2 separate regions of the Homo sapiens genome follow, and region 1 is linked to region 2. Evidence: fine-mapped expression QTL. A gene starts in region 2. The other region holds a variant in brackets. All regions are shown on one strand. Distances are from middle to middle. Region 1 holds the start of CD5 (CD5 molecule). Region 2 holds the start of SDHAF2 (succinate dehydrogenase complex assembly factor 2).

Evidence for each region.
Region 1: its variant is fine-mapped to the expression of SDHAF2 in whole blood (INTERVAL, PIP above 0.99).

Annotation. Positions count from the first base shown.
Region 1 is chr11:61,100,025-61,116,530 of GRCh38, forward strand. CD5 (CD5 molecule) reads left to right here and starts at 2,465. Exons shown (of 11, transcript NM_014207.4): 1 at 2,465-2,591; 2 at 15,032-15,070. The coding sequence starts at 2,537. The variant G/T (reference allele first, on the strand shown) is at 6,952.
Region 2 is chr11:61,425,085-61,437,200 of GRCh38, forward strand. It overlaps SDHAF2 (succinate dehydrogenase complex assembly factor 2), which reads left to right and starts at 5,040. Exons shown (of 4, transcript NM_017841.4): 1 at 5,040-5,098. The coding sequence starts at 5,063. It overlaps CPSF7 (cleavage and polyadenylation specific factor 7), which reads right to left and starts at 4,891. Exons shown (of 10, transcript NM_001142565.3): 1 at 4,830-4,891; 2 at 4,098-4,206. The coding sequence starts at 4,151. RefSeq lists enhancers at 4,106-4,754, 5,111-5,170 and silencers at 4,261-4,690, 4,801-4,970, 4,829-5,164.

The DNA of each region.
Region 1 (16,506 bases), 320 kb before region 2:
CACACACACACGACATGGAGATCACACACACACATCAACATGGAGATCACTCACACACATCAACATGGAGATCACACACACATCAACATGGAGATCACATTCACACACATCAACATGGAGATCACACACACACAACATGGAGATTACACACACACATCAACATGGAGATCACACACACATCAACATGGAGATCACACACACACAACATGGAGATCACACACACACATCAACATGGAGATCACACACACATCAACATGGAGATCACACATACATCAACATGGAGATCACACACACACGACATGGAGATCACACACACACATCAACATGGAGATCACTCACACACATCAACATGGAGATCACACACACACATCAACATGGAGATCACATTCACACACATCAACATGGAGATCACACACACACAACATGGAGATTACACACACACATCAACATGGAGATTACACACACAACATGGAGATCACATTCACACATATCAACATGGAGATCACATTCACACACATAAACATGGAGATCACACACACACATCAACATGGAGATCACACACACATCAACATGGAGATCACACACACAACATGGAGATCACACACACACATCAACATGGAGATTACACACACATCAACATGGAGATCACATTCACACACATCAACATGGAGATCACAAACACACATCAACATGGAGATCACACACACACATCAACATGGAGATCACATTCACACACATCAACATGGAGATCACAAACACACATCAACATGGAGATCACACACACACATCAACATGGAGATTACACACACATCAACATGGAGATCACATTCACACACATCAACATGGAGATCACACACACATCAACATGGAGATCACACACACATCAACATGGAGATCACACACACACATCAACATGGAGATTACACACACATCAACATGGAGATCACATTCACACACATCAACATGGAGATCACACACACACATCAACATGGAGATCACACACACACATCAACATGGAGATTACACACACATCAACATGGAGATCACATTCGCACACATCAACATGGAGATCACACACACACAACATGGAGATCACACACACACATCAACATGGAGATTACACACACATCAACATGGAGATCACACACTCATCCACATGGAGATCACACACACACATCAACATGGAGATCACACACACATCAACATGGAGATCACATTCACACACATCAACATGGAGATCACAAACACACATCAACATGGAGATCACACACACACATCAACATGGAGATTACACACACATCAACATGGAGATCACATTCACACACATCAACATGGAGATCACACACACACATCAACATGGAGATCACACACACACGTCAACATGGAGATCACATTCACACACATCAACATGGAGATCACATTCACACACACAAACATGGAGATCACACACACATATATCAAATGGGGATTACACACACATCAACCCCAACATGGAGATCACACACACAACACAGAGATCACACAAGTCAACATGGAGATCATACACACACATCAACATGGAAATCACAAACACACAACATGGAAATCACACACACATATCAACATGGAGATCACACACACACATCAACATGGAGATCACACACACATCAACATGGCGATCACAATCACACACATCAACATGGAGATCACACACAACACAGAAATCACACACGTCAACATGGAGATTACACACACATCAACATGGAGTTCACACACACATCAACATGGAGATCACACACACTCAACATGGAGCTCACACATACACCTCAACATGGAGATCACACAACACAGAGATGACACACACAACACAGAGATCACACAAGTCAACATGGAGATCTCTCTCTCTCTACACACACACACACACACACACACACACACACACACACACACTGGCACAAGCCCAGCATTCATGGCGCAGCCATCTCTTGTACTTGCTAGCAAAACACCACCTGTGGAAAGTCAGCTCAAACTTCCAACCTCATCCCTCACAAAGGGGGAATGGAGGGTTTGGTTTTGGCTTTCACTGGAGTCTGCAACAAGAACTGGCATCATGCTGCCCATTTCCCGCCTCTCCCCACCCAGACCCCTGCCTCAGGGACGCCTGTCCTCAGCCCAGCCCTCAGCTGCAGCCAGGCCTTCAGCCTCCGTAACCCCCGCTCAGGGTCCCCACCCCCTGCAGCCCTGTCCCTCCAGGATGCATGGCCTTGTCCTGTGTGGGGGTGGCCGAGAGCACTGCCCCAGCCCTGGGTACCTTGGGCAGGAAGCTGGCAGAGGCCAGGGCTGCCATTCAAACAGGGGCAGGTGGTTTTGCCAGGAGGAAGTTGACAGTTCAACTTCAAACATGGGTGACGCAGGCCCCACACTGCCTGCTCCCCGTCCCACCCCTCCCTGAGCACGCCACCCCGCCCTCTCCCTCTCTGAGAGCGAGATACCCGGCCAGACACCCTCACCTGCGGTGCCCAGCTGCCCAGGCTGAGGCAAGAGAAGGCCAGAAACCATGCCCATGGGGTCTCTGCAACCGCTGGCCACCTTGTACCTGCTGGGGATGCTGGGTGAGTACCCCTCCCAGGTGTCCTGCGAACACCCGGGCTCGCTCCAGTGCAAGGAAGGAGTTCCCAGTTTTACCCAAGGCTGACTCTGGGATCCACATGTCAGCCCTCTGGAGCGTTGTGGAGATTTGGGGCCACTGGGATCCCTGCCTGCCCCCACTAAGCCGCAGCTTGGCCCTCTGTCCTGCATGTCCCACCCGCCAGGAGCACAACCTTGCCTCTCTCATGCGCTGTTGAGAACCCTGCTTTACCCTTCCAGTGCAAGAGAGACTGCAGGGGGGACCCGCATTTGATGGGGCCCAGACAACTTGATTCCTAGGCTGAGTTGGATTTTAGCAGAGCATTCAGGCCTCCCTCTGCGAGGTCCCCCACTGACAGCCCAGCCTTTACTTGGTCGCCTCCAGAGACATGGAAACTCGCCGTCTCCGAGGCAGCTCTGATGATGCTCTGGACAGACAGTGGGCCGAGGCAGGGTGGAGCCGCCTCTGAGGACGATGTCTGAGCAAATGTCAAGGACTCATAGCGGAAGTCCTAGGCCCTCTCATGCCCAGTCCTGGGTCAGTCCCAGAGGGGCCCAGCCAGGCCGGCTGGGATGAGTACACGCTGGGCCTGCTCTCACTCCAGCCCTGGGTTGTAAGCCCAACCCTGTGTGACCTCGGATAGGTCCCCAAGCCTCTCCAGGCCTTGATCTCCCCATTTATGAAATGTGGGGGTTGGGGGTGTGAACTGGATGAGGCCTGACCCACTTCCTGAGGATTTAGAAGGTCTGGCAGGGTGACAGAGGTGCGTGACTCTGGGCTGGAAACAGGAGGATGCGAGCAGCTTCCAGGCTGGCAGGGAGAGGGTCCGGAGGCCTTGCCTGCCTGAGCAGGGAGCCTCAGCAGCCTTCTAGGGAAACCGGGTGTGCAGGTGTGAGTGTGGGGGAATGCATGTGTGTGTGTCTGTGTGCATGTGTGTGAGAACTGTGTGTGGGGGAATGTGTGAGTCTATGTGTGTCTGTGTGAGTCTGTGTGTACGTGTGTGAGAACTGTGTTGGGGGGTAATGTGTGACTCTGTGTGTGAGTCTGTGTGTGAGTCTCTGGGCATGTGTGTGAGTACTGTGTGTAGGGGAATGTGTGAGTCTGTGTGTGAGTCTGTGTGTGAGTCTCTGGGCATGTGTGTGAGTACTGTCTGGGGGGGAATGTGTGAGTCTGTGTGTGAGTCTCTGGGCATGTGTGTGAGTACTGTGTGGGGGGGAATGTGTGAGTCTGTGTGTGAGTCTGTGTGTGAGTCTCTGGGCATGTGTGTGAGTACTGTGTGTGGGGGGGGAATGTGTGACTCTGTGTGTGAGTCTCTGGGCATGTGTGTGAGTATTTTGTGGGGGGGAAAGTGTGAGTCTGTGCGTGTGAGTCTGTGTGTGAGTCTGTGTTCATGTGTGTGAGAACTGTGTATGGGGGAATGTGTGAGTCTGTGTGTGAGTCTGTGTGTGAGTCTCTGGGCATGTGTGTGAGTACTGTGTGGGGGGAATGTGTGAGTCTGTGTGTGAGTCTGTGTGTGAGTCTGTGTGTGGGAGTCTGTGCGCATGTGTGTGAGAACTGTGTGTGTGTGCTTTCATGAGCACAATGCGGCCTCCAAAGGCAGGATTATCTCCCCAACACATGTGACAATGGCACCTGTGCACACATGTTCACATGGTTCTTCTCACATGTAACAACAACAGGTACAAAATGCCTTCTGTCCCAAAGTAAGAGGCCTGAGACAGACCTCTGGCTGGCTTCAGGGACCCTGCTAAGGAGGGACCAGGCCCTTAAACCCCCCACCTGCTCCTCACCTCTGGCCTCAGACTTCATTGAGATAGGGCGGCTCCCAGCTGAGTATGGGAACCCGTGTCCTGCTCTAGGGCCCTCCCAACTGAATCCCATCATGGGTGAGGCTCCTGATGGCACCAGGCAAGTCCCCTGGCCCAACACAGGCCACAGTCAGGAAGACTTGGAGGTAGCCCCTTCACCCCAGTATGGGGACCTCCTTGAACCCCAGGAATACTCAGTTCCCAGTGTCTGAGTGAGCCGGTGGGTACCAAGCATTCCCTTTGTTCAGTGGGTAACGGTTTACAAAGCACTTTTAAAGCCATTTTCTGCTGCAAGCTTCACAACAGCCAATGAAGTAGGTGGGCCCATTGGCCCCATTTTACAGTGGGGAAAAGCGAGGCCCAGGAAGGCCGAGTGCAAACCCAGGGTGCAGCAGCTGGTGCACAGCCGAGCTGACCCCAGCCCAGCATTCCTGCCTTCACAGAGGCCCCTCCCTTAGCTAAAAGGGAAGGCCACCAAAGGCACTTCCGTGTGCAGGAAAATGGCCCTGGGACACAACCTCCACCAGCAGAGATACAGCCACCAGAGCTGGGGACACCAAGGGCCAGGGTTGCTGGAGTCAAACAGTGCAGGCACCCTTTGAGCCATTCCAAGGAGAGAGGCAGCAATGCCAGAGCCCTGGGGACACCACAGCCTCCTGGCTGGCATCGGGGCTTGGGGACCTTTGGATCCTGAGGCATGAAGATGCCCCCAGCAGGCCTGGGTGCTAGTGACAGGCCAGGGCTTCCCACAGTTGCTCCCCTCTCAGCCCCAGCCTGCCTGGACAGCTGCTGGCAGTGAGGCGGGGAAGCGGCTCTAACACAAACTGCACGTCCCTGACTGGCCTAGCCGATGCGACTCTGAAAGCCAGCACTGGGACGTGGGAAAGTCATGGACTCTGCAGTTTGAATTCCAGTCTGCCACTTACCAACTGGGCGACCTTGGACTAGTTCTGTAAGCCTCAGTTTTCTCATCCGTAAACTGGGTGCAACAGTACCTCATAGAGGCTTATAAGGATTCAATGAATCAATGCACACAGAGCTTAAGTACAATCCTGGCATATAGTATAGTAAGTACTCAATAAACAATAATAACAGCAACAACTATGATTATTATTATTACCAGGGTCAGCAAGAAACAATGCGAGGTAGGAGCCAATGGGGAGGAGGGTCTTGCCAGAGGCCTGCACAGCCGTCAATCTCTCTACCCCTCAATCCTCTTGCACAGGCTATTTATTCACTAATTCATTCATTTTTCATCTACAAATATTATTGAGCATCTCCTGTGCATCCAGCTCTGTGCAAAACACTGGGGATACAGGGACCAAGGCAGGAGTCCCTGCCCTCAAGGATTTGATCAGCTAACAGGAGAGCTGTTAGAGAACACAAGTAAACAAGCACCAAAGACCGGGCATGGTGGCTCATGCCTGTAATCCCAGCACTTCGGGAGGCCAAGACGGGTGGATCACCTGAGGTCAGAAGTTCAAGACCAGCCTGGCCAACATGGTGAAACCTCATCTCTACTAAAAATACAAAAATTAGCCGGGAGTGGTGGCACGCACCTGTAATGCCAGCTACTCAGGAGGCTGAGGCAGGAGAACCGCTTGAACCTGGGAGGCGGAGGTTGCGGTGAGCCGAGATCGCGCCATTGCACTCCAGCCTGGGCAACAGAGCAAGACTCCATCTCAAAAAAAAAAAAAAAAAAAAGGCACCCGAAATATTTACACATTTTGAAATACTGAGTGCAATGAGGAGAACAGCAAGTTCCTCAGGCACAATACAGTCTGCACTAGGATAGGAGGACATCCCTTTGGCTGGGCAGGCAGGGAGGGCCTCTCTAAGGAGGCGAGGTCTCATCTGAGAATCCGAGACCTGAATGAGGGACGGAGCCAGCCAGGCAGAGAAAAAAGGGAAGAGGGTCCCAGGCAGAGCGGATGGCAGGGCAAAGGCAAGGGGGAAGGACAGGCCTGAGAGGGTGGGGCTCCTACTGGGAGCAGGGCAGCAGGCCCACTGTCCCAGGCTGGGCGAGGCCCTGGTTGGATCATCCTCCTCGAAGACCCAGAGCTCCCCACCTCCAGCAGGGAATGAAGGGACCTGGGGGCCCAGGAAGGGACCTGGCCTTCCTGGGTCACTCTGTCACCATCAGTTCAGAGGGGTTTTCCCTGCAGTGACCAGGCGGCGAATTCAGCTCAACCTGACAAAATTGATTGAACATCTATTCTGTGTGTGTGTGTGAAATTGAACATCTACTGTGTGTGTGTGTGTCCATGTGCTGTGTTTGCGTATGAACACATATGTGCACAGCCCTGTGGAGGGGAGCTTTGGAGCAATGCAGACCTAGTTTGATTTCTGCTTGGCCACCCACAAGTGAACATCTCTCAGGGTCTCATCTATAAAAATAGGGGTTCCTTGCTGTGTCCACCTCAAAAGATCACTGCAATAATTACATCGGGTTTATTCAGAGACTAGGTATGGATTGAACACCTACTATGTGCCAGATGCTGTTCTAAGTGCTGAGGACACAGCAGTGAACAAAAC[G/T]GTGGAAAATCCCTGCCCTGGTGGATCTGGCATAATAGTCAGGGTGTGATGGGGAGACAAACAAGACACAAGCTAAGCTAGTGATTATGCGAATACTAGACGGTCATGAGAGGTGTGGAGACAGACAGATAGAGGAGGGCTGGGACCGGAAGCCTTGGTGGGGTGTGAGGTACCTGGGGAGGATTCAGCGGCTCTCATGAGAAGATGATATTTGAGTCAATATTTGAAAGAAGGGAGTGAGCCCACCGTGTGGGACCTGAGGAGAAGCGTTGCAGGCAGAGGGGCCTCCAGCTGCAGGTCAGTGGGGGATCGATGAGGCAGCCACGAGGGCCACGGATGCCCCCGTGAGGACTTGGGCTTTTTCTCCCATGCACTGGACAGCCACACAGGAGCAGAGAGGTGAGCATAACTCTCACCTCTCCAGGTCCTCAAGTGCATCTTGAACCCCAGGCCAGATGCATTTGGAACTCCAGAAGCTTTCAGATTGTAGAAGGAAATACTGTGTACATACTGTGTGCTCTTAACACACGCAGTGAGGCCTGGGGCAGCACCCTGCGTTCAACACATTCCCATTTCTGCAGTGAAACATGAATTTGCACACTTAGAGGGATGTAAAGACAGCAAACACCCTCCCACCAAATGCATTAGAACAAGACTTTTAGATTCTGGATTTTGAATTGCAGATAAGAGACTGTGGGCCTGGATCACTTCTTCTATAGCTACCACTATCACCGTGACCAGCATCATCATCACCATCATGTACCTTTCAAGGCCTGACTTTCATGGTGTCCAGAGGGACCCTAATACTCCTCTCCGGGGGACAGATACGGTAGGAATAGCGTAGGAAATGGGTGGTGGCAGTCTGCAGAGACGACAAGGGTCCCATGCACTGCCACAGATTCCCACAGAGACATCTGGAATGAACCCCTCCCTCCTTCTGGCCCCAGTTTCCCCCATCTGTACTCCAGAGCAAGCAGGCTCTGGGGCCTCCCTGGGGTAGACTCCCACAGGCCCTGTCAGGTGATGGAGACAGGGTTTCTCTCCTGACTCTACCACCAGCTAGCTGTGTGACCTTGGGCAAGTCACTCAGCCTCTCTGAACCTCGGTTTCCTGATCTGAAAATGGAGGTGAGCATGGTCCCTTCTTCACAGGGCTGTGGGTAGAAAGAACAAGTCTAGTGCATGAGAGAGCTTTGGGGTAGGTAAAGCTCTAAACAAAACCAAAGCCTTGTCTCTGTGACAGCAGAGACACCGTATATGGTGCGAAACTCATGCAACAGCAGACTACTAGTGGGAGAGAGAAATAACAATTCAAACAGCAAAGGTCATTCTGCCCACGACCCACTGTCCGCTCACTGGGACAGGCCCTGGGTGAGCCAGATTAGAGACCTGAATCTGCTGTTCCTTCCTGCGGGCTCCATTCCCAGGCCTCTCCTGGTGTAAGCCCAGTGTGACTCTATATGTGTTTTGCACATAAAAGCCGCCTAATCATAAACCAATCATTTCATCTGTGCTCAACCCAAGAAAGGGAATTTTGGTCCTTTACGACCTTCGTTTCCCTAAAGCCCTGATACAGCTCCAACTCTACAGATGACTGTCGTTTCAGAAAAGAGGGGCTTCTGACCTTTCAAGTCAGCCAACATATAGGATTCGAGGAAGGAAAATCCAGAATCCTACCCAAAACACAGGCAGATCTATTGTATTTCATGGACATCGATGGCTGTAGCTATGGGGAGGTCTGTGGACTGTTAGAAGGAATCACTGTTTACGGGAAAAAGGGAACACCTGACTTGCAAACTACACTAAATCAGTCATAGGTGTTTTATCTGTGGAACAAAGTGGTGATAGCACCCCGTCTTCTGAGGCTCTAGAAAGAAATGGGGTCTTCTGTGAAAAATCCTTGTCCTGGGGTCTGCACAGGGTAAGGATGCTGTCATTTTATTATCATCGGTCATTATCACAGGCCTGTGAATCCGGGTGCCTGCCAAACCCTAAGCAGGCCACACCCTTGCCTCCATTTCCCAGGGTGCAGGGGCGGCAGGACCTAGGAGTGAGCCAGAGGCAGGGGCCAGGAGTGCAGGTTACAAAGCCAGCCGCCCTGGGCTGAATTCTGGCCCTGCCGAGTTCTCACTCCCATGCACCACGACAGCCTCCTCCTCTGTAAACTGGGACCCATCATGCAAGTCAACAAATATTCATCTGTAATTCCAAAGCCCAAAAAACATTTGTAAGTTTCTGGCAAATGCATTTGGTGCAAATCCTGACCTGAACGAATGGGAGGCTATTTATAATCTTGACACATCCCCCTTAGTGTGAAACTGCATATGTTTCGCTGCAGACACTGCCATGTGTTTGAAGCCAGGTCTCTCCACACACATGGCGACCGTAAGGTGCCAGCGAGGCGTGGACGAAACAGAAGTCAAGGGCCACCGCCACTGCCTGGGGCCTCCAGAGATGCAGCCAGTGGAGCCAGGATGTCCTATTTTTCAAAAACGCCTGGATCTTGAAATGTGTTTAAAAAGCAAAACAAAATTAAAAGAAACCTTTTTTTTTTTAATTTGGCTCAAAAAATTTTTAAACACTGTGCAGAGCAAATAAAACTCATGGGATGCCGTAATGAGAGCCAAAGTGAGAATTATCCTGAATACTGTGGGGGCAAGAGGAATGAGAGGGACAGGGAGGAGGATATCCTCACCAAGACCTCAGGGCAGGCAGGGCCAAAAATATTGTCTCTGCCAATGCAAAGACAAGAGACGGGAGCTCCAGGGGTGTGATAAGCCGTCTGACTTCTTTAGCCCTGAATTTTGCCTGGGTTTGCCCAGTCCAGGCCCTAAATTGTGGGAGCTGCAAGGGGAGGTGGGCAGGAGAAGGAAGGGGTCTTCAGAGAATTCTCATCCGTAGCCCCAGTTGCTCGGGGTGAGGGGTGGCTGGCGGATAAGGAAACGGCATAGCACTTCCAGGCCTCGGGGGCCTCCTGGTCTGGAGTCTCGGGGATTCTGTCCACAGTTTTGGCAATAGCAGGAGCCTCAGGCTTCATGAGGCTAGGAAGGATGGTGCAGGAGTAAGCTGTAGAGCCCCCAGAGGGGGTCAGGGAGACCCTGAACACAGACCGCAGGGCTCAGGGGATGGAGGGTGCTGGTCTGACCCCTGTGAGAAGCAACTAAAAAATAGAAATAGGTTATGGACCCTCAAAACCTCAATGTTCATTCTGCTCCCTAGATTATAAGTGAAAAACAAACAAGCAAATAAAAAAAAAACCTGAACATATTCATGGACAGGCTGAAAGAATATACACAACACACTCAGGAAGCTTCCAAGTCAGCTGTACATCTCACCGCCCTCCCTCCACCAGCTGCTGAAATCCATCAGGAGCTAAAGATTATAGATCACAGGTGTTTGAACCAGGGGGAAGGTGAGGGACTGTGGAATCTAACTTCCTTACTTTACAGATTAAGAAACTGAGCCCAGAGAGGCTGAGTGGCTTGCCAAGGTCACACAGCACTTCATAGCTAAGTCTTCTCACTGCATGTTTTACTGACTGAACGGAATCACAAGTTCATTCCCTTTGATCAGGATTGCACACCAGGGTGGTGCAGGAATCAATGAAACCTGGGGCAGGCCATCATGGGCTTCCTGCTGGAGGGAAGGGAGGCAGTTTGGGCCTCACTGGCAAAAGCTCAAGACTCAGTGCCAGGCGGCTAGGTTTGAGTTCGGGCCCCAGCACTCATTAGCTGCTTGGACAAGTCATTTAACCCCTCTCAAGTTTCCTGGTCTGTAAAATCGGGACCAAAATAATAGCACCTACTTCATAGCACTGTGGTGAGGACTGGGAGAGTTAATGTGTAAAAGGCCCGGAAGAGTGAAAACTTTTAAAGTGTTGGTGATGGTGACAGTGATGGTGATGATGATGGTGACGGTGATGGTGATGATGATGGTGACGGTGATAGAGATGGAAGGAGAGGAGAGGAACTGCTGCTCATCTGGGGACCAGACAGGCACCCAGAGGAAGGTTCCAGGGCGACACTCTAGAATGCATAAATATCTTTTTTATTAAAGCATTTGTTAGAGCATTTTTTAAAGAATTTCACTTGGTTCTCCAGCTTGTTCAGTCTTTCCTGAGAATGTTCTCTGAGCAAGACCTAGGCTGTTCTGTGTGGAATCTGCCAAGATTGTCAGGCCCAGTCCCTGTCCCCAGGCCTTCAGGGTCTGGCTGCACGAGCGCTTCCAGGTCAGACCCAGGTGGTGTTCATCTCTGCATCTCCAAAGCTGGCACTCTGGAGGAGCAATTGGGTGGCTGGGAGCAGAGAGCATGGGTTTTGGAGTCAGACACATGGTTCGACTCCACCTGCCAGCCATATTACCCGGGACAGGGCATTTGCCCTCTCCTGACATTTATACCAGGAACGTACTCAACTCTCGTGATGGGGCTGTGTGGAAGATTAACAACAATATCTGTGATGAACCATACCGTGGGCTAAGTATGCAGCAGGTGCTCAACAGTTGGCAGCTGCTGTTAATAATGAACGTTGAGTATGATGACTCGGGAAATAGAGATGCTCCTTGACCTACAGTGGGGTTGCCTCTCAATAAACCCATTGTAAGCTGAAAACATCCTAAGTCAAAAATTCATTTAATACCCCGACAAACCCATTGCAAACTTGAAAAGTCGTAAGTTGAACCACCCTAAGTCTGGACCATCTGCGCGAAGTTTCCAAGTTAGGAGAAGGAAGTGGTGAGCCCCATGGCTTGGCTCTCTGTGCTCCTGGACAGGGAATCTTCCCACTGGGAAAGCTCCCCGAGGGTCTGCTGCCCTGGGCACAGCTTCCCCCAGCCCACCCTACTCCACAGATCAGTAGCACCAGCTCTGAGCACTAGGCCAGGAAGCACTGGGCTAAGCCCTTTACACCGATTAGCTCATCTCATCTTCACAACGGCTCTAGAAAGCTAGTCCCATGCTCATCCTCATGCTATGAGTGAGGAAATCGTGGCTTGGAGGCACAGAGACAGGACAGACGTGCTCCCCAGACTCTATAGGCAGGAAGTGGCAGAGCTGATACTCAGAACTGGAGCAGTAGAAAGTCATCGGTGACTGAAAACCCATCCTGAGCTGTGTAGCACTGAAGGGCAGATATTTGGACTCCCACTCCCCACAGGTGGCACTTCAAGCTGCCTTAGCCCTCGAGACTTAGCCAGAGGGATGACTCCTTCAAGGCAGACTGCCCTGCTCCTGATGGGCAGCTGGGATGAGAGGGAGGTGGGAATGAGAGGTCAGGAGTGAGAGGTGAGGGCAGGACAAAAGGGCCTCCTTCCTGATTTCTCTCGCTAGCTGGACATCTCCCTGATGGCCTCCTGAGGCTGCCCTGCCCACTGCAATAGATCAGATGATTGGCTGGGCGCGGTGGCTCATGCTTGTAATCCCAGCACTTTGGGAGGCTGAGGGGGGTGGATCACCTGAGGTCAGGAGTTCAAGACCAGCCTGGCCAACATGGTGAAACCTCATCTCTACTAAAAGTACAAAAATTAGTCGGGCGTGGTGGTGCATGTCTGTAGTCCCAGCTACTCGGGAGGTTGAGGCAGGAGAATTGCTTGAACCAGGGAGGCAGTGGTTATAGTGAGCCAAGATCATGCCACTGCATTCCAGACTGGGCAAGAGAGGAAGACTCTGTTTCAAAAAAAAAAGAAAAAATTGATCAGACGATTGACAACTAGACCATCCTTTTCCACCCAGGCCAGAGCTCTGTACACTTCCCTGTTGGTGAGAATAACCTTCCCCTTCCAAGGCCCGTGACTCCTAGAGCAACAGCCACGAAAGGATCTTGCAGATTCAGGGGAAACTTATCACATGGCCATGATGACTTCATTACAAAGAGTCTTGATTCGGGGACAAGGATGAACTGTGGAGCACATCACCCCTTAAAATTCAACCGCCAGCTTGAGAACACTCAAGCAAGAACAGCTTTTTCAAAGCACACCTATTTTTTAAGAGACGGGGTCTTGCTATGTTGTCCAGGCTGGACTCGAACTCCTTGGCTCAAGTGATCTTCCTGCCTCAGCCTGCTGAGTAGCTGGGACTACGGCCTTGAGCCATTGGCCCAGCTAAACACACCTATTTTTTAACACCAAGCAAAAATTTCTCACAAACAATTTGAACACAGCCTTTCACTATTAATATATAAAGCAGTCTCCTTGACCCAGTGCCGTAAATCCAAGAGTAAACCCAAGTCGGACAGATGGAAATCAAAATACCGTACTTGCACCTAACTGATCACGCTAGGTGGTGAATACAGAGGTTAAGCTTTGAAGCCACGTGAGCTTGCTACTTCACCTCGTCCCCACCCAAATTAAACCTCTTCCCCAGCCACAGATGAGCTGCTCTGCTGAGAGCCCCGCAATGGGCAACTTTGCCCCCACTCCACAGTGAGACCAGGCTACAAGGAGGCAGAGCTTCCACGTGGTCCACATGGGGGAAGGCTGGTTCCCTGCAGACCCGTGTTCCCTGGGCCTGTCGCCTTGGCTCCCTTGTCAACTAGCTGGCTACACTACTGTGGGCAGGTCACGCCATCTCTTTGAGCTTGGTCTTCTCCAGAAATGGGCAGCTGTTAAAGATAAGTGGCTGTCATTCTTATCCTGCCTTGGGAATGCTAGAAAGTAGCAAATGTTCTCTTGGTTCCCTTTCTTGCTCATTTCTTTCTTTCCTTTTTTTTTTCTTGTAAAGACAGAATCTCACTCTCTCACCCAGTCTGGAGTATAGTGGTGCAATCTCAGCTCACTGCAGCCTCCACCTCCCAGGTTCAAGCAATTCTCCTGCCTCAGCCTCCAGAGGAGCTGGGATTACAGGCATGCATCACCACGCCGAGCTAATTTTTGTTATTTTTAGTAGAGACAGGGTTTCACCATATTGGCTAGGCCAGTCTCAAACTCCTGACCTCAAGTGATCCCCCCACCTCGGCCTCCCAAAGTGCTTGGATTATAGGCATGGGCCACCGTGCCCGGCCCCTTTCTGGATCATTTCTCCATTCTCTAGAACTAAGGAGCTCAAACTTTTTTGAGTGGAAACATGCGGGACATTTTTACATTGCAACCCCCAACACACAAAAAGTGATCAGTGCATTCTGACATTCTCTTTTTTATTTATTTAAAACAAAACAAACAAAAAAAAACAGGGTCTTACTCTGTCACCCAGCTAGAGTGCTGTGGCATAATCATAGCTCACTGCAGGGTCCAACTTCTGGGCTCAAGCGGTCCTCCCACCTTGGCCCCCTTAAGTGCTGGGATTGCAGTCATAAGCCACCGTGCACGGCCTCTCTATTCTACTCCATTTCATTTTTAAAAAAATTGATGGCCTGAGTGCTGTGGCTCACACATGTGAATCCCAGCACTTCAGGAAGCTGATGCACGAGGATCACTTGAGCCCAGGAGTTCAAAACCAGCCTGGACAACATAGTGAGACCCCATCTCTACATACACACACACATACATGCATACATACATACATACACACATACATAGTAAAAAAATTAGCCAGGCATAGTGGCTCATGCCTGTAATCCTAGCTACTCAAGAGGCTGAGGTGGGAGGATTCTTTGAGCCAGGGAGGTTGAGGCTGCAGTGAGCTGTGATCATGCCACTGCACTCCAGCCTGGGTGAGGAGAGTGATATCCTGTCTCAAAAAGTAATAATAATAATAATTGATGGTTACATTATTACAAAGGTTAGCATGAGGGAATTTGAGGTAGGGAGTAATGGAACTGGTGTATACCTTGATTGTGATGGTGGTCACACACATCTATATATGTGACATTCACGGAATCATGCAGTAAAGAAAAATCAATTTCACGTCTGTTCATTTTAAAAGTAACGTTTTTTAAGAAGAAAAAAAATCGATAGTTGCAGCCCACTAGATAGAATTCATATCACTCAGGGGTTCCAACCTGGAGTATGAAAATTCCTGTCCCTAAAACCCATGATAGTGGATAGGGGGAGGCAGAAAGGGCCATTGCTCGGGCTGTGGGTGGGTGAGCTGGGGAGAAGGGAGAGAGTGGGAGGTTTCACTTCCTGACCCTCCTCTCTTCTTTCTGCAGTCGCTTCCTGCCTCGGACGGCTCAGCTGGTATGACCCAGGTAAGGAAGAGCCACATGGAGAAAGGCCTGGGGCAGGGGGAGAGTGGGGCTGTGGTTTCATCAGGCCATCGGGGACCTCTCGATGAAGCCATCACTTCTGCCAGAGTGAACCCCACCCTATAGAGAGAGTGAACCCCAGCATACACACAGGCACATAGATGCAGACACTGCACATTAAGATGCTCACATGCAGGTGGGTGCCCTCGACAGCCGTAAATCACCCACAAATGCCAGATCTCATGATAATTATTATGACCCGCTCACCATGCACAGAAGACATCCCAGCTCATAAATGTACCTTGCAAAGTCTTATTTCCCACCCAATCCTGACAGATGCTCCATGGTCAAAGATGTTTAGAGCGGAGTCTGCAGAGAGAGGCCGCAGACTGATGGTAAAGTGTGTGGAACGTCCAGCCTTAGACGTTGGAGTTTAGTCGTAGAGGCTGTTTCCCAAATAGGGTTCCATGGAGCATGTTGGACAAAGGGCAGGCAACACCGCATCTCCCACTGAAGACTGACAGTGTACACCGGCCCAGTAAAGGATCTGAGAAATCCTGCAGCGAAGAAATACATGACACTTTTTAACCCAGCACTTTGCACCCTTATTTCACCACAGACCTCTCCTTCACATTGACTGGGATAACATCGTGCTGAATGTACCTGGGGAGAATTGTGGCTGAAGGGTCTTGAGATGCCACTGTGCAGCCAGAGGGGGTGACAGGGGCCTTGGCAGGCCCTAAGCACGATCTGGGCCCTGCACTGACATCCTAGCTCCAAGCTTTGGCACACTGCTTGACCTCTTGAGCCCGTTTCCCCAGCTGTGAAATGGGAAGAAAATCTCTTGCCTGGTGAAGCGGCAACGAGCCAGCTCGCTGGGCGGACAGCCTGCAAATCACCCCACCAATGTTAGGTGTTGAGACGCGCTCGTTCTCCCTCTAACCAGCCAAGTGCCCTTGGCGAGCCCTGGCCCTGAGCTTTGGCCCCAGAGTGTCCTCGTCGGAAGAAAAGGGTAGCCTGACCCGTGGTTCCCGACCAGGGAAAACCTCCCCCTCAGAATCACCTGGGAGAGCCTTTCACATTTCTAAAAATTTCTTGAATCAGTGACACATTCATCCAGCTCAAAAATTTAAAAAAATATAAAAAGATCTGTAGTGAAGAGTCTCACTTCCATCTCTATTCCCGTCTATCCCAGTCGCCCCCGACGTCGACCCCAACACCCCAGGTAATGACTACGTTTATTTGTTTCTTGCATATTCTTCAAGGAGCTCTTTATGCAAATACACACACACACACCCCACACAGACCCCACACACACACCACACATACACACAACCACACCACACACACACACCACCACAAACACCACACACACACCGCACACCACATACACACCCCACACACACCACCACACCACACACACACACCACCACACACAC
Region 2 (12,116 bases):
CAAAAGGATTGAATGAATACAAAATTATCACAAGATTTAAATGGTCTCTCTGGGCCACAGAGCCTCAGTTCAAAGAAGCTGGTGGGAACTGCACAGGGCAGGTCTGTTGAGGGTTCTACTGAAGAAACAAGGTATCAAATTGTTTGGATTTTAATCCCCCAGCATCACAATTCATTTTACTTGTTCAGCTAGTAAGACAGAAACACAGTTAAGGGCCGGAGATTTTTCTCAGCGGATTTATGCAGTAATAGATTAAAGTAAAATCAAATTCTACAAATTAAGTGAAAAGTACATTTTACATGCACTGATGTTCAAAGTTTCATTCCAGGGAGATTAAACATGAAACATATATTTAATACTGAATAACTATCTCAAAGAATTTTGTGTTTAATGGCACAGAAAGAACTGTGACTGTCTCATGAAACTTCCTGCTTCCCTGTAAACAAAAGAGAACATGTGTGATTTTCAATTTAAATAAGATCTTCTCCACTTGTCTGCTCAGTGTTCCTAACCTCCACCCTCTTCTTCCTCATATCCCACTGAGGGAAGTAACTAGCCTAGGATTTATTTTTCTCAGAGCAACCAACTTGATACCATTGTTTCTTTTAATTGTAACCAAGGCTTAATCAAAAATTTTGGCTTTATAATGACCATTTCCACAGTTCCCACTTCACACCCTCCTTGTCCTTCACTGTACATTGTCGTTGTCCACCACCCCTACCCACCAGGAGTGGAATCTGTTTTGAGTACAGGGACCCACTTTTTTTTCCTTTTACCTCACTAGTCCTGGCACAGTGCTTAGCAAACACAAGTAGCTCAATAAATAAATACTTATTGATGGACATAAGGAAGAGAACTGGACACTGTGCAAAGCCTGTCTCAGTATGAAAAGCCAAAACTCCCAGCAGAGCAACTGATCTCAGTCACCTTTCCAGAGTTCTCCCTGGCCCAAGAGAGCCAATGTGAATCCCAGGACTCCCTGTGTTACAGGAATAAAGTAGCTCTGGCAAAAACAGGCTTTTGCAGCAAATGCTCTAAGAGATCAGGGAATAAGCACCATAGGGTTCCATCTAGGAAAAATATTAATTTTCCTTGAGGAGCAAAGTGCACATGAAGGGCTTCCTGTGCATGGGCCAGCTTGGGGCGAAATCAGTAACATTCTTAAAACATTCTAAAACACAATTTGTACTGGGTGCCTTCAGACTAAGCCAGCTTCTAACAATTCTAGCCAAAGTTTTTTTGTTTTTTTGTTTTTTAAATAATTTCTGTAGCTTCCAGATGACACTAACACTAACTTTGTCAAAAATAACTAATTGATATGTGTGTGGGGGGGAAGCACTCATCCCTCACCTTCCACAAAACATAAGATATTCAAAATTCACACTTTCTTCAGCTTGCCTAGTGTCAAATATTGCCCGTTGGATATATGTATCTATTAAAGTCCACATACTACCTTTAGCCTGTCTTAGACCCATAAAAAAGTCCTTTTTAACTGAGGAGACCAGAGAACAAACTATTGAGGCCAATAACTTATACTCTAACAAAGCAGTGACCACTGGACAATGAGTTCTGCGTATTTCTCAAAGTGAAATGAATGGCACTATTATCAATCCACAGATAAGAAATTAGAAGGGGAAAAGCTTTTCATTAATAACAAAGGTGGCTGGGTACGGCGGCTCACGCCTGTAATCCCAGCACTTTGGGAGGCCGAGGTGGGCAGATCACAAGGTCAAGAGATTGAGACCATCCTGGCCAACATGGTGAAACCCCGTCTCTACTAAAAATACAAAAATTAGCTGGGCATGGCGGTGCGCGCGCCTGTAGTCCCATCTACTCAGGAGGCTGAGGCAGGAGAATCATTTGAACCTGGGAAAAGGAGGTTGCAGCGAGCCAAGATGGTGCCACTGCTCTCCAGCCTGGCGACAAAGAGAGACTCTGTCTCAAAAAAAAAAAAAAAAAAAAAAAAAAGAGAAGAACTAAGGACCGCTCTTGTTATCTTGGTGGGGGAAAAACATAATCTGCAAAAAGTCTGAACTGGGCAGAGTGGCTCACACCTATAATCCCAACAGTTTGGGAGGCTGAAGTGGGAGAATCGCTTGAGCTCAGGAGTTGAGAGACCAGCCTAGGCAACACAGCAAGACTGTGTGTTTTTTTTTTTAAGGTATTAAAAGTCTGATTCAAATGAATATGGAAAACTCAGGAAAACAATGATTTTGTAACTAAATTAACATCTAGAACTTTTCTCTTTTATCCATAATTATTGGACTTATTTAAAACTAAAAAATTTTTTCGCCATGCACGGTGGCTCACGCCTGTAATCCCAACTTTGGGAGGCTAAGGCGGGCGGATCACAAGGTCAGGCATTCGAGACCAACCTGGCCAACATGGTGAAACCCCGTCTCTACTAAAATTACAAAAATTAGCCAGGTGAGGTGACCCACGCCTGTAGTCCCAGCTACTCAGGAGGCTGAGGCAGGAGAATCACTTTAACCTGGGAGGCAGAGGTTGCAGTGAGCCGAGATCGCGCCACTGCACTCCAGCCTGGGTGACAGAGAGAGACTCTGTCTCAAGAAAAAAAAAAAAAAAAAAGGAAAATTCATCTATTTAAGATAATCAGCAGCTATATTTAAAGGACCACAGTTAACCACAACAGAGACAAGAAACCTGCCATTAAAAAGTATAATTGGTGAAGCTGTATAATGGGTACAAGGTCATTACATTATTCTGCTTTTGTGTATGGTTTATAATTTCCATGTTATAAAACCATAATACATCAAAAAATAGATTTTCATGTAAACTTATGCCAAGTGAAAAATAAATGGCATGTATCCGCCTCTTCTGTTGCCTCATATCAAAGTCAGGGTCAAACCAGGGAACTTTCCCTTTCTAACCCATTCAATACATGCTCTTACCAGGTCCTTATGTGTACCCACTGGAAGATGCAAATGGGAAGAGCCAGCTTACTTACATAGAATGGTGCTGAAAATAACCCAGGCAAGATATTAGTACGTTTTCAATAGAAATTTTGGAACATTCTTGAGAATTGACCTCAAGACTGAAAAACTTAACTGCATGGAAGATTATTTCTTTGAGAGAATTTTTCTTGTGTTTTTAAGAGTCAGGGTCTTGTTCTGTTGCCCAGGATAGAGTGCAGCGGCCCAATCATGGCTCACTGCAGCCTTGAATTCCTGGGCTCAGGGAGTACCTCTTGCCTCACTCTCCAGAGTAGATGGGACTACAGGCACAAGCCACCATATCTCGTTGTTGTTTTTTTTTACATTTTTGTAGACTGGGTCTTGGTATGTTGCCCTGGCTGGTATTGAACTTCTGGTCTTAAGTAATCTTCCCATCTCAGGCTCCAGAGCAGCTGAGATTACAGTCAAGAGCCACCTTGCCCAGCTCTAGATAAATTTCTGTATAATGTTCCCTGGTACAATAAAAACAAATCCAACTGAGGGTATGTGCATGGGTCTATTATCAGTTTTCTAACTGGTTTGTCTAACGTCTTTACTCTTTTATTCCCTCTAGAAAGACTAAAGGTAACCAATACAATTTATTATACCAAAATGCCTGTGGACTTCTCATGACTGGAGTCAACCTACTTATAAAAGGAAGTAAAACTTAATTGGAATGGAGTTGAAACTAAATGTTAAAGTCATCTTTTCTACTTTGCTTTTGCACTGTCACGATGGAGGGGACTACACTTCTCCAGCTGCAGGTTGAGAATGTAAAGGAACCGGTATCAACACTGTCCTCATGAATACCGTAGCAAATGTACTTTTGATTTTTAAGTGTGGTTAGTCTGACACCCACCTTTGGCTTCCTGGGGAGTAAATTCCACAGGTTGATTCACCATTCTATTACACCTGCTTTTTATTTGCTCTTAAATCAAAGCCTTTAAAATTAAGCCTGGAGCTTCAAATTAACATAAAGAGGAATGGAGTGTAGTCTTTAAAGTTTCTGCAGGAGAAAAATTTTAGACCGGATAGACGCGTGTTCAAGCCTAGGACTGGTACAGCTTGAAACCACTGCCAGTTTGCTGAAAATGATTCCTCAGATGATCAAGGAAAATCCCAAAGCTCCTGATGACACCTCACCTGGTTGAACTCCTCGTCAGCATATATATCAATCAAGTCCACTCCTTCTGACATGGCTCCGGAAGGAAGATCGCGAGTCCGGAGGATGGACAAAGTAAGGAAGATGCCACTGCGGGATTCGGAAAAATGCAAGAATTAGAAGGCACGAGGGTCCTGGGCTGGGAAGAGGGTAATGATTGCTAACCTCCCATCTCCAGAGACGCAGCATCCTGGCGGCCCCAGCTCGGCCCCACCCGCTCCGCCCCGCCCCCGGCCTCGCGCCGCCCACCGCTCTCCCAGGCCGCCGGGGGTCGCTGCCCATCACCCTCGGGCCCGACCCGGGTAGCGCCGCGTCTGCGCCGCAGCTGCCTATGGCGCGACGGAAAAGTCCCACCCTCGGGTCCTAGTGGCCCTAGGACGGCGTTGCGAAGAATGACCGCGGCGAAGCCCGCAGCCCCTATCCGCTGCACCTGCCTAGCCCCCAAGGCGGCTCCGGCCAGAGCCCCCAGGTGTCAAGCAGCTCCAGCCGCCTCTGCCCCCAACCCAGGCCTACTCTTCGCCCCCAGCTAGGCCCGCCCCGCTCCCTCCCGACAAACCCGGCCCGGCGCGCTCTGCCTCCTCCCTCAAAAGGCCCGCGACTCCCTCCGCCCGCAGACTCCGGCCGTCCCATCTCAACCGACCCCCTTCCCGCCTCAGTGCCGGCCCGGACCCCTCTTCCGGCCCAACCTGCCCCCGACCGCGCGCCCCCGTTACCGGGAATATGGCGGCGGCGGCGGCGAGTCCGGACTAGGCCCGAAGCGCGCGAACCGCTCTCCGCCCCAGGTCCCGCCCCCCCCGCCGCCGGCGTCACACGCACCGCCACTTCCGGCATGCGCAGGGACGCACCTTCCGGCTCAGCTCCTCCGTGGCTGCCGTGGTCGGCTGGCCGGGCGGCTAGGAGTTCCCGGAAGTGCCCGCGCAGCCGGTTTCCGGTGCAGGTGGGGAAAATGGCGGTGTCTACAGTGTTCTCGACTTCGTCGCTGGTGAGGAGAGAGAACGTTCTAGCGTCCGGGGCGGGCGGCAGCGGGGATTACCCTTTGTCTTCCTCTGTGGTCTCTATCTTGGGGAGAGTTCGTCTGCCCGATAGCGCAGGGCAAGGGCAGGCCCAGGGAGAGGCCGATCCTGCAACTCAGGAAATAAAGGTCGCTTCCATTCTTTGGTGAGCCTACTGTGTGCCGGTCTGGAAATATCTGCTTAAACGATCAGTCATCGTCCAAGACCCAATTCGCCTCTCACCTACGTCCCAGGCGGGATTAGCCCAACTTCCCTGGGCTCCCCTTCTCCCCGTTCTTTAGTCTTTAATGCTTTTCGTGGTTTCACATAGTATCTTCAGCTTTTTGTTTGTTTATAATTGACATATAATTGTACGTGTTTATGGGGGTACAGTATAATGTTTTAATACATGTGTACATCGAATAATCAAATCAGCGTAGTTAGCATGTCCATCACCTCAAATCTTTATCATTTATTTACGGTAATAACTTTTCAAGATCTTTTTCTAGCATCTTGACATATACAGTACAGTGTTATTAGCTGTAGTCACTCTAATATGTAATAGAACACTGGAACTTATTATTCTTTTTTCCTAGCCTGCTGTTATAAAGTAACTAACTTTGCCTCTATCTTCCCCTCCTACCCCCATCCCTATCTTTATTCTTTTTTTTTTTTCCTGCAGACCCAGGGACTCGATCTTTATTCTTTTTTGATGTAGGCGTTTACACTATAAACTTCCTTCTTAGTACAGCTTTTGTCGCATCTCATAATTTTGTATATGTTGGGTTTTAGTTTGTCTCAGGATATTTCCTTTTTGTTTGTTTTTTGTTGTTTTCCTTTTTTTTTTTTGAGACGGAGTTTTGCTCTTGTCGCCCAGGCTGGAGTGCAATGGCACGAACTTGGCTCACTGCAACCTCCACCTACCGGGTTCAAGCGATTCTTCCGCCTCAGCCTCCCAGGTAGCTGGGATTACAGGCATCGCCATCATGCCTGGCTAATTTTTGTATTTTTGTAGAGATGGGGTTTCACCTTGTTGGCCAGGCAGGTCTCGAACTCCAGACTTAAGGTGATCCGTCCTTCTCGGCCTCCCAAAGTGCTGAGATTACAGGCGTGAGCCACCGCGCCCGGCCTGTTGTTTCCCTTCTTTTTTCTTTTTTTCGTAGAGACAGGTTCTCACTATGTTGCCCAGGCTGGTCTCAAACTCCTGGCCTCAAGTGATCCTCCTGCCTCAGCTTTCCAAAAAGTGCTGGGATTACTGGTGTGATCCACCATTCCCGGCGTGTCTCAAGATATTTTCTAATTTTCCTTTTGATGTCTTCTTTGACTCATTGATTGTTCAAGAGTGTGTTGTTTAATTTCCACATATTTGTGAATTTTCCACCTTTTCTTTTGCCATTGATTTCCAGATTTTAATAAAATGTCTCTTGTGCGGCATATAGTTGAATCTTTTTTTTAATTCATTATATTCAGCCACTTCATGTCTTTTGGTTGGGGAGGTTATGTTATGTTATGTTATTTTCTTGAGACAGAGTCTCGCTCTGTCGCCCAGGTTGGAGTGCAGTGGCATGATCTCGACTCACTGCAAGCTCCACCTCCTGGGTTCACGCCAATCTCCTGGTTTAGGAGTAGCTGGGACTACAGGCGCCCCCCACCACGCCTGGCTAATTTTTTGTATTTTTAGTAGAGACGAGATTTCACCGTGTTAGCCAGGATGGTCTCGATCTCCTGACCTCGTGATCTGCCCGCCTCAGCCTCCCAAAGTGCTGGGATTACAGGCGTGAGCCACCGCGCCAGGCCTGGAGTTTAATCCATTTATACCTAAAGTAAATAGTGGCCGAGGTGGGTGGATCGTGTGAGTCCTGGAGTTCGAGACCAGCCTGGGCAACATGGCAAAACCCCTTTTCTACTAAAAAAAATTAGTCAGGTGTGGTAGTACACACCTGTAGTCCCAGCTACTTGAGAGGCTGAGGCGGGAGTGCGTCTGAGAAGTCAAGGCTGCGGTGAGCCTTGATTTTGCAACAGCACTCCAGCCTGGGCATTGGAAGTGAGACCTTGTCTCAAAAAATAAATAAAATAGGGAAGTACAATCATCCCTTTGTATCCATGGGATGACTGTTGTAGGATCCGCTGTGGATATCAAACTCTGCAGAAGCTCAGTCTCTTATATAAAATGGCATAGTATTTGCATATAATCTACACACATACTTCCATATCCTTTAAATTATTTCTAGATTACTTATAATACCGAAAACAATGTCAAGGCTATGTATATGCTTGTTATACTATATCTTAGTTGTTTTTTAATTGTTGTATTATTTATTTCTTTTGAATATTTTTGATCCACAGTTGGTTGAGTGTGCAGTTGGTTGAATTTACAGGTGTGGAACCCACAGATACGGAGGGCCAACTGTGCTTGCTGTTGCCGTTTTGTAAACTGTTCTCTGTCTTACAACCTTTTTGCTCCTCTTTTCCACTCTTGTCATCCTTTATATTTCGTTGACTTTTTTTTTTTTGTAGTGACATACTTTGAGAAACGAATTTCTCATTTCCTTGTGTGTCTTACACAGGTATTTCTTTGTGGTTACCATGTGGCTTATATAAAACATAACAATCTGTTTTGATAACTTAATTTCCATTGCATACAAAAACTCTGCTCTTTTATGACCCCCTTGTATGTTGTGGATGTCACAAATTACATCTTTTTATATTGTCTCCATTAACAAATTTTTATAGTTGTTTTTATACCTTTGTCTTTAATTTCTATACCAAAATTAAAAGTGACTTACATACCACAGTTACAGTATTATAGTATTCTGTACTTGTCTCTCTCTATATATTTTTTTAATTTAATTTTTTTTTTTTTTTGAGACGGAGTCTCGCTCTGTTGCCAGGCTGGAGTGCAGTGGCGCGATCTTGGCTCACTGCAACCTCCATCTCCTGGGTTCAAGCGATTATCCTGCCTCAGCCTCCCGGGTAGCTGAGACTACAGGCGCCCGCCACCATGCCTGGCTAATGTTTTGTATTTTTAGTAGAGATGGGGTTTCACTGTGTTAGCCAGGATGGTCTCCATCTCCTGACCTCGTGATCCGCGCACCTCAGCCTCCCAAAGTGTTGGGATTACAGGCGTGAGCCACCGCACCCGGCCTCCAGTGATAATTTAACACAACTCATACCAGTATCACACAATTCCCTGGAACTATGTGACAACCATTATTGTTTCTTTTATGGAATGCTGCCTTGATACTAACAGAAAAAAATGGGTGAAATTTGGCTAAAATAATAAGACATCCCAATTATTAGAACAATTTCCTTGTACTGATGAGGATAGTCCTCCCCATCCGCATTCATTTCTGTAGAAATTACTCAATCATGTTATTTTAGTATAGAAAGTAGGAATCCCTGCCTTCAGTCTGCATCAGAATCTCTTAGAGGGTTGTTAAAAATTCATTCGTCAGGGCCCAGTCCTAGAGATTCTCATCCAGAATGTTTATGGTGGGGCTTGGGAATCTGAATTTTCATCGCATGCTGTATTAGTTTACTAGGGCTGCTATAACCTGTGTGGTTTGAAGAACAGAAATTAATTTTCTCATAGTCCTGGAGGCTAGAAGTCCAAGAGCAAGGTGTTGGCAGGTTTGGTTTCTTTCGAGGCCTCACTCCTTGCCTTGCAGATGGCCACCTTTTCACTGTGTCCTCACATTTCTCTGTGCATGCACATCCTTGGTGTCTCTTTTGTGACTTTTTAAAGACATAGGATCTTGCTTTGTTGCTCAGGTTGTACTTTAACTCTTGGGTTCAAGCAATCCTCCCACCTCGGCCTCCCAGGTAGCTGGGACTATAGGGTCATGCCACTGCACCCAGCTTTTTCTGACTTTTGACAGTTTGATTAAAATACGTCGCAGTATGGACTTCTTTGGGTTCATGTTAATTGAGATCTGTTAGGCTTGAATCTGGATGTCCACTTCTTTCCCCAACTTTGGGGGTTTTTAGCCATTATGTCTTTTTTTTTGAGATGGAGTCTCACTCTATCACTGAGACGAGTGCGATGGCACAATCTCAGCTCACTGCAACCTCTGCCTCCTGGGTTCAAGCAATTCTCCTGCCTCAGACTCCCCAGTAGCTGGGATTACAGGCACGCGCCACCATGCTTGGCTACTTTTTGTACTTTTAGTAGAGACGGTTTCGCCATGTTGGCCAGGCTGGTCTTGAACTCCTTACCTCAGGTGATCCGTTCACCTCAGCCTCCCAAAGTGCTGGGATTACAGGCATTAGCCACTGAGACCAGCCAATTATGTCTTCTAATAAGCTTTCTGCCCCTGTCTTTCTCTTATACGACTCTCATAATGTGTATATTGATCTCCTTGATGGAGTCCCTAAGGCTTTCTTCACTCCTTCTCATTCCTTTTTTTTTTTTTTTTTTTAGAAAAAACCCTGACTAATTTCAAATGACCAGTCTTTGAGTTTGCTGACTCTTTCTGCTGCTTGATCAGGTCTACTATTGATTTTCTCTAGTGAATTTTTTAATTTATTTTAATTTTTTAATTTTTTTTTTTTTTTTGAGACGGAGTCTCGCTCTGTTGCCCAGGCTGGAGTGCAGTGGCACGATCTCAGCTCACTGCAAGCTCCGCCACCTGGGTTCACGCCATTCTTCTGCCTCAGGCCTCCCAGGTAGCTGGGACTACAGGCGCCCGCCACTATGCCCGGCTAATGTTTTGTATTTTTAGTAGAGACGGGGTTTCACCATTGTTAGCCAGGGTGGTCTTGATCTCCTGACCTCTTGATCCACTCGCCTTGGCCTCCCAAAGTGCTGGGATTACAGGCATGAGCCACCACGCCGGGCCTAATTTTTTAATTTTTATGTATTTTTATTTTTTAGAGACGGGGTCTCACTGTGTTGCCCAGGCTGGTTCTCGAACTCCTGAGCTCAAGCGATCCTCCAGCCTCAGCCTCCCAAAGTGCTAAGATTATAGACATGAGCCACCGTGCCTGGCCTCCTCTAGTGAATTTTTCAATTCAGTTACTGTATTCTTCAGCTCCAAAATTTTCATTTGGTTATTTTTTAATGTTTTCTGTCTTTTTTTTGGTTTTCTCATTTTGTTCAAGCTCAATGTTCAAGTTCTCAATGTTCCAAAGCTCATTGAACATCTTTATTATGGCTAGTTTGAATTCTTTATAGGTGATTCATATACTTCTGTTTCTTTAAGGTTAGTTTCTGGAGATGTATTTCGTTCCTTTAATAGGACCATGTTTTCCTCTTTATTCATGTGCTTGGTAACTTGTACTGGTGATTTCTACATTTGAAAAATCATCTGTCTCTCCTGGTCTTTGTACTGGTGATTGGCCTTCACTAGTCAGCATGGATAGAGATTCCAAGGGCCTCTCAATCCTTTACTGAGGATGTGTCTTTTCTGGACTTGCGGATGTAAATTCCCATTTAGAGGGATTTGCCGGTTTCCTTTTTCAGGAGCCCATAATCTCTTGCTCCCTCTAGTGTCTGCGTATGATACTGCAGTTTCTCTGGAGCTGCTACAAGTCTCCCAGCTGTCGGTGGCCTCCAGACTTTTAGAGTATGCCATGTCCCATCAGTGCCCCAAGCTGGGCAAGACAGAAACCAGTCCCTCTGGTAGCTTCCCCAAAGGACAGAATGTTACGACTGGGTGTGGTGGCTCACGCCTGTAATCCCAGCACTTTGGGAGGCCAAGGTAGGCAGATCACCTGAGGTCGGGAGTTCGAGACCAGCCTGACCAACATAGAGAAACCCTGTCTCTACTAAAAATACAAAATCAGACGGGCGTGGTGGGGCATGCCTGTAATCCCAGCTACTCGGGAGGCTGAAGCAGGAGAATTGCTTGATCCTGGGAGGCGGAGGTTGTGGTGAGCCGAGATCGCGCCATTGCACTCTAGCCTGGGCAACAAGAGCGAAACTCCGTCTCAAAAAAAAAAAAAGTCAGAATATTAGATGCACACTCCACTCCCCTCAACCCTGGGAGAGGCCACTGGGCTGTATTGGCCTTTCTCTGCAGTTTCAGGGATCCTCTGGATCAGCAGCAGGCCACCCAGGCATTTAGAGTGTGCTAGATCCTTTCAAGTGCTTAGAGACAGAAACCAGTCCCCCAGAGAGCCCCAAAAAGCTAGAATGTTGGATGCATACTGCACCTGTTTCCCTCCCTAGGGAGAAGCTGGGAGGTGGGAGTTTTCTCCTGCTTGTTCTGCACTGAGCCAAGGATGAGTGATGAGGGAGTGAGTGCTTGCCAGTCTAAACTGTCACCTTTGTTCTCCATGGTTCTTTGTTCTCCCTCAACCTGCTGCCCTTTTCTGTTAGCACTTAGATTCAAACAAAACAGAAACCTGATCCCCCCAAAAGTCCGAACATTATACATACTTTTCAGTCTTCTCTTTCTGTCTCAGGTAGAAGCTAGGAGCTGGGGGTTATCTCATGATCATGCTTGAGCAGGGAGGGAAGAGACTATGGCAAATGAGTGCTACAAATTTTTCTGCTGGATTCGATGCAGCTGGTTTTGTGCTCACCTGGGGAGCAGGAGCCTCTTACTGGTTTCTGGATTTCTCACAGGGAATTGGTTTGTTTGTTGCTGTTGGCTCAGTGTCTCCATCGGGGAAGGAGGATCTGGGGTTTCCTACTCCACCATCTTCACCTCTTGCTGAGGTCACCACCTTGACATCATATCTTGATAAGTTGTCAACTTCTCTGGATTGGGAGCCTTTGGGGGATTAGGGATCATGCTGTCTCTGTGTGCTCAGGATTTGACACAGGTGAGTGAGTAGAGTATAAACCACACTGTAAGAATTTTAAGGGAGTGCAAAGGAAGGAAAAATTATTTCTGCTGGGATAGTTTCTGGAAAGGCACTGGTTAGGGACACATTTGCAGTTAGGACTGTGTTTTAATTCTAATTGCAGTTACTATTTGGATGATTTTGGGTGAGTTATTGAACCTTCCTGAGCCTCTGTTTCCTTGGCTATAAAGTGGGGACAATATCAGCATAATTTCTTTT